Linked DNA regions of Homo sapiens. Changing the gene in region 1 together with any one later gene gives a genetic interaction. Each region holds a gene or a part of one and is shown on either strand. Other genes may lie near its edges.

What was found.
Region 2: changes in PSME3IP1 (region 1) and ACACA together harm fitness less than expected from each alone (positive genetic interaction), as found in Homo sapiens cells (one large-scale study listed by BioGRID).

The regions. Positions count from the first base shown.
Region 1 is NC_000016.10:57,151,966-57,155,039, reverse strand, and holds the end of PSME3IP1 (PSME3-interacting protein), read left to right. Parts: intron 1-532; coding exon 533-750; 3' UTR 751-2,574; downstream 2,575-3,074. UniProt on the Homo sapiens protein: Promotes the association of the proteasome activator complex subunit PSME3 with the 20S proteasome and regulates its activity.
Region 2 is NC_000017.11:37,400,078-37,404,107, reverse strand, and holds part of ACACA (acetyl-CoA carboxylase 1), read left to right. Parts: intron 1-4,030. UniProt on the Homo sapiens protein: Cytosolic enzyme that catalyzes the carboxylation of acetyl-CoA to malonyl-CoA, the first and rate-limiting step of de novo fatty acid biosynthesis.

The DNA.
Region 1 (3,074 bases):
AAATGTTTAAAAAGAAAAGAATGTTATTTTGTAGCTGATGTTTGGCCTTAAAATTGTATCTGTGCTAGCTGGCTTATTGGTCAGTAAATAAGAAATGGTGTAATACGCTGAGAACTTAATGGAATTGTTAATATTGCTCACAGTGTCTCTCTTAATCTGTTTTCAGATTCTCACGGCTGTGTGAGCACAGGGAAATCAAAGCACTCTAGGCTACACTCCAGAGTAGCTTGTTCTCCAACTCGGATTTGATGGGGAACAAGAGAGTGTAGTCAGGCTCTGGGGTTAAAAAGACCTTGATTCAAGTCTCAGCTCTGCCCCTTTACTTTCAGAAGTCCTTTCACCTCCTGGAGCCTCCCTTCCTCCTTCAGTTTCCCCATCTCTAAAACGAGGGTGATGATAGTATTGGCTGCATAGCATTGTTCTAAGGCTCCTCTGTGGGAAAATCCCTTGGTACAGTGCCTGGCACATGGTAAGTCAGTCCCCAACTTTGGAAAAGGGTGATGAAGTGACAGTCTTTCCCCTTTTATTGCAGAGCCCTCATCCTGCAAGTCTCTCGGAAACACCTCCCTGAGTGGCCCCTCCATCCACTGCCCCTCTGCTGCAGTATGTATCGGCATCCTCCCAGGCCTGGGTGCCTACTCTGGGAGCAGCGACTCCGAGTCCAGCTCAGACAGCGAAGGCACCATCAATGCCACCGGAAAGATTGTCTCCTCCATCTTCCGAACCAACACCTTCCTCGAGGCCCCCTAGTTTCTCCGTCCCTACACAGGGAGCTCCTCCCCAAGGGTAGATCGGACCGTTCATGCTGCCTATAGGCATTATGTCCCTCAAAAAAAAACTCCTTTGCCTGCATCCTGTGTACAACATGACATTTTTAACCAATCCAATCTAAAAATGTGCCAGAATCCACCTGTGGCCCGAATCGTGTTTGGTTCCTCTTTCTACTCCACTGCAGATGACCAAACCTGTCCCGCTGCCACTTTCCTCACTGATATTGGGAGGAGGGCAAGGCCCAGCCGAAGTTCCACTAAAAATGCCCCAGGAGAATAGGCACCGGCTGGCTTGCCAAAGGGTTTGGGTTTTATTGCTTTCTGTTTTTTCTTTTCCCGACAGCACAAAGAAGTAAGGGCAGTTATTGGACAGGTGTTATTTAAACATTCTATTGTAAATGAATGTGTTGTTTGGTTCTACTGCATTGTGGAGCATGCGGGGGAAGAGAACTGACCCAGGTAGTGAAATGGAGCCCTTCCCTGGAACTAACCAGTCCTTGATGTTGTGTGACTAAGTAAAGATGATAAACCCCATCTGCTGGGGGTGTCACTTCACACTCGGCATGCATTGTGAAAGCTTTCCATACCCTTGGCCATTCCCTCTCTCCTCTCTCTCCAACCCCATTTATGCAGGAAGGGACTGCTAACAAGAACGCTTCCATCTCAAACCTTTTCTCTGCCTGGGAAATTATTTTATGTTTGTTTTTGAAATAAAGGATTTAGTTTAAGATTCTAAATTTTAGAGAAACAAACGTAGGCCTTGTTTACTAATAGCCAGACATCAGAACTGCAGGTAGGTATGTTAATGAGATGACTTATTTCTGGCAGCTCCTGGAATCCTAATATTGTAAATGAGTGGGACACACTTGCATATTGTGACCATTCTATTGAGGCCCTTCTCTGTTTAATGCATATTATACTTGTGCTTTTAACTGTGGAATCTATTTCTAACCTAAAGGTGCTGCCCTAGTACTTTTCTTTGCTGCCTCTGCTGCTCTTTTTCCTTTCCAAACAGCAACTCTGAGGCCATGAGCAGCCAAAAACTAGAGGTACTGCTCCACCTCGTCTCATAAAGGGAAACGGGCTCATCCCTTGGATTCTGGAGGAGGGAGAGGGAGATGGTGTGGAGGCCTCGAGGACAGAGATAGACATGAGCTTTGACAACAATCTGTAGGCTCTCCTGCTTTAGAATAAGCATGTACCATTCTTTATCCATTCCCCTTATTCCTACATCAATTGTTTTTACTTTCTTGGGTGTGAGACTGAGTGAGACACACACAAAATGTGTTGACACTGTGATGCCGGCAGGCAGAGCAGCTACTGACTTTGAACATGGGCAGAGAGGCCCCTGGATCTCATCCAGCCCACTCCTTTTCCCCTTCCAGTACAGTGACACTCTGGTGCCCATTGGCAGATGGCGACTTCCCTGCACCCATAACTGATGCTTTGTGAATTCTTCCTCCTTTTCAGAACTACTCTGTGCTAATTGTTCTGCCAGTATGGGCGCATCAGCTCCATCCTGACAAACAAGACATTTAGGTAAAACTTTGTAGGCACCTTCTGCTTCTCTGCTTCATTGTTCCTGTGATAGTCCTGTTGTTATTACAGCATGTACCCAAAACAGCCTCACATTGTTACAGGAGGCAGGCCAGGACATCAAAGTCATCATCTTTATGTGGCATGACTCTTAAGAGGCCATTACTGTATCTCATGGCCTCTTGATGTGGAAAGAAGTTGACAGAGGGTTGCAGGGTTTAAAAACATCCATTAACATGAAAGCTAATAAACCTGTCAGAGAACAAGATCTTGTTTTTCCTCTACTGAATATTGTGCTTCCACCTCTCCCCATGTCTCTCAGCTAGATTGTGTTGAGAAGGTTGAGTGAGACTCTTCAGACTGTGACTTACCTTCTGGTGTCTCAGGAGAGACTGAGAATCACTGGTGATCATTGCATCATATTCCATTGTCCCCATCAGCACAGAGCTCTGGAACTGAAACAGAGCTTCTGTAGCAACCACAGCTAACAAAGCAGCGTCTGATCTGACCAACAGAGGAAGCAGCCTTGGAAAGTATCTAGTGTAGACCTTGAAGTTCAAACCCAAAGGAGAATAGAATAAACAGGGCTGGAAGGAAACACTGCTTTAAACTGTAAAGTGTAGTACTCCTGCCTTAATAATTGGGATTTTATGGTAATTACGGGACAAAAACAAAGTTTGGCATGGGTTTCTTTAAGCTCGCTTACTTTGTTCTGAGTGGTAGGATTCTTACAATTCTCCAGCCATGTGAGGGAGAAAGCTAATAGGA
Region 2 (4,030 bases), on another chromosome or scaffold:
ACTGAGATCTAGTCGTTAAAAACATAGCATTCAGGGGCCAGGCACAGTGGCTCATTCCTGTAATCCCAGCAGTTTGGGAGGCCAAGGCAGATGGATCATTTGAGGCCAGTAGTTCAAGATCAGCCTGGGCAACATGGCGAAAACCCATCTCTGCTAAAAATGCAACAATTAGCTGGGTGTGGTGGCGCATGCCTGTAATCCCAGCTTCTTGGGAGGCGCAAGAATTGCTTGAACCCTGGAGGTGGAGGTTGCAGTGAGCTGAAATCGCACCACTGCCCTCCAGCCTGTTCAACAGAGCAAGAGTCTGTCTCAAAAACAAAAAAACAAAAATCATAGCATTCAACTACCTGGAAATTACCCTCTCCCTTCAGTTGATGTTAGGCTCTACTTAGACCAATTTAGTCAGTGTGCTTAAGAAAGATGTGGAGAGGGCAGGACACGGTGCCTCACACCTGGGATCCCTGCATTTTGGGAAGCCAAGGTAGGCAGATCACTTGAGTTCAGGAGTTCAAGGAGGCATGAGAACTGGGCAACATGGTGAAACTTCGTCTCTACAAAAATTGCAAAAATTAGCCAGGTGTAGTGGCGCATGCCTGTAGTCCCAGCTACTTAGGAGGCTGAGGTGAGAGGATCACTTCAGCCCAGAGGGTTGAGGCTGCATTGACCCAGTATCACACCACTGCACTCCAGCCTAGGTGACAGAGTGAGACACTGTACCAAAAAAAAAAAAAAAAAAAAAGATGTGGCAAAATTAACATGCACAGTGAGAAGAAGGGTAACACTGATTACTGATTAAGGCAGTACTCCTCTGGGTTTTTGTCTTAAGTGGATGTGATAGTGGCATCACTTACACGACCAGCTGAAGGAAGAATAGATTTGGAGGAGAAATTGAAAGTTCTGTTTTGGATCTGTGTTTTGCATTCTGACTGGAAATGACAAATACAAGTCTACAGCTCATTGGAGGTGTCAGAACTAAAACTGTATAACTGTATTAGAATTGTTTATTTGGCTGTGTGTCTTACCTAGACAGACCTTGAGGACAGACACTGTTGTCTTTGTAACCTCAGTGCTCTGAAGTGTATCCTCAAATACTTGTGAAATGAGTAAGTAAAGGCAAAAGTAAAAATGAAGTCACTGGCTGGGTGCAGTGGCTCACGCCTGTAATCCCAGCACTTTGGGAGGCTGAGGCGGGCGGATCACGAGGTCAGGAGATCGAGACCATCCTGGCTAACATGGTGAAACCCCATCTCAACTAAAAATACAAAAAATTAGCCGGGCGTGGTGGTGGGCGCCTGTAGTCCCAGCTACTCAGGAGGCTGAGGAAGAAGAATGGCGTGAACCTGGGAGGTGGAGCTTGCAGTGAGCTGAGATCGTGCCGCTGTACTCCAGCCTGGGCAACAGAGCGAGACTCTGTCTCAAAAAAAAAAAGAATGAAGTCACTTAGGCAAAATGTAGAAGATACATACTCTATGCTTTCACTGAAAGTCTAAGCACCTGAATGTGACTTACAAGTAGGGTGACCATAATTTCTGATTTGCTGAGAATAGCCTGGTTTATATCTGTTGTCCCTACCTAAGTATTAATATTGCCTGGTTTCACTCTCAGTAAAGTCTCCATTTGTACAATAAATTTATATTGTCATTCTTTTTAGAAGGCCCTTCCAGATCTAGCATCTTCCTATATCTTTATCATCACTGCCCTATCTTAGACTCCATTTGCCAGCCAGGTGGACATACCTTCATTTCTCATATGCACTCTTAACTTCAAGGTTTTTTTTGCCAAGGTACTGCCTACCTCACTTAGACATCACTTCCTTAGGAACACTTCTCCTGACCCCCCAATGGCTGAGTTAAGTCACCCTCTTACATGTTCCCAGTACACCTTGTATTTAACCTGTCATAGCAAAGATGACTAAGTGCCTTGTTCCCTCACTAAATATCTCTGTAAAGGAACCCAAAAAAACACCTTTTGTCCTCTTTAAGCCATAAATTTATATTAATAATATCCAAATCCATGTTGAACCAGTATTTTTGAAGATTGACCTTCAGGATAAACTAATAGCACAATCTTCATGCCCTTTCATTCATAAGTAACTGAAAAGGTTGACTTTTGTACCAGGAACCCAACGAAGAAAACTTGTATCTTGTCAGGGTTGGTAACCTGGCTGCCATTGACTGAGACCAAAATATCCCAACAGTTTGTCCTCAGCTGCTAAGCTGCTGTGGTTAGAATCAAACGTAGAGTTTCTGGCCTGGTGCGGTGGCTCATGCCTGTAATCCCAACACTTTGACAGTCCTAGGTGGGAAGATTGCTTGGGCTCAGGAGTTCGAGACTAAACTGGGTGACTTAGTGAGAGTTCAACTCTACAAAAAAATCAAAAAATTAGCTGGGCATGATAGCACACGCCTGTGGTCCCAGCTACTTGGGAGGCTGAGGTAGGAGAATCACTTGAGCTCAGACAGTTGAGGCTGTAGTGACCGTGATTGTGCCACTTTACTCCAGCCTGGGCAACAGAGTGAGACCTCGTCTGGAAAAAAAAAAAAAAAGGTAAAGAGACAACCTACGGAATGGGAGAAAATATTCACGACCCCTACATCAGATAAGTGGACAAGGGCCTGAAAAGACATTGCTCAAAAGAAGACATGCAAGTAGCATGGGAGGCCGAGGCGGGTGGATCACCTGAGGTCAGGAGTTCGAGACCAGCCGGGCCAACCTGGTGAAACCCTGTCTCTACTAAAAAAACAAAAATTAGCTGGGCGTGGTGGCGGGCGCTTGTATTCCCAGCTACTCAGGAGGCTGAGGCAGGAGAATCACTTGAACCCAGGAGGCGGAGGTTGCAGTGAGCCAAGATCACACCATTGCCCTCCAGCCTGGGCAACAGCAAGACTCTGTCTCAAAAAAAAAAAAAAAAGAAAAACAAAAGAAAAAGACATGCAAATAGCTAACTGGTATGTGAAAAAAATGTTCAACATCACTAATCATCAGGGAAATGTGAATTAAAACTACCATGAGATATCACCTCACACCTGTCAGAATGATTATTATCAAAAAGCGAGATAAGCATTGGCAAGGATGTGGAGAAAAACCCTGTACACTGTCAGTGGGAATGTAAATTAGTACAGCCATTTTGGAAAATAGTATGGAGGTTCCTTAAAAATTTTTGAATGGAACTACCATATGATCCAATAATCCACTTCTGGGTATATATCCAAAGGAAATGATATCTGCATGTCAAGGTATCTGTACTCCCATATCCATTGCAGCATTATTCACCATAGCCAAGACATGGAAACAGCCTACATGTATGCCAATGGATGAATGAATAAAGAAAATGTGAGATATAGATACACACACACACACACACACAGACACACACACAATGGAATACTGTTCAGCCTTAAAAAATAAGGAAATCCTGTCATTTGCAGCAACATAGATGGACCTGGAGGACATTATGCTAAGTGAAATAAGCCAGGCACAGAAAAACAAATACTGCTTAATCTCACTTATGTGTGGCATCTAAAAAAGTCAAGCTTGTAGAAGTAGCAGAATGGTGGTTACCAGGGGATGAGAGAGAAAGAATTGGAAGATTTTGGCCAAAGGATACAAAATTTCAGTTAGACAGCAGGAATAAGTGCAGGAGATCTATTATACTATATGGTGACTATAGTTAAAAATATATACTTGAGGCCAGGCACTGTGGCTCACACCTGTAATCCCAGCACTTTGGGAGGCTGAGGCAGGTGGGTCATCTGAGGTCAGGGGTTTGAGACCAGCCTGGCCCACATGGTGAAACCCCATCTCTACTAAAAATACAAAAATTAGCCAGGCGTGGTGGTGCATGCCTGTAATCCCAACTACTCAGGAGGCTGAGGCATGAGAATCACTTGAACCCGGGAGGCAGAGGTTGCAGTGAGCCAAGATTGCATCACTGCACTCCAGCCTGGGCAACAGAGCAAGACCCTGTCTCAAAAACAAAAACAAACAAACAAACAAAAATATATATATGCTTGAAAATTGCTAAGAGAGT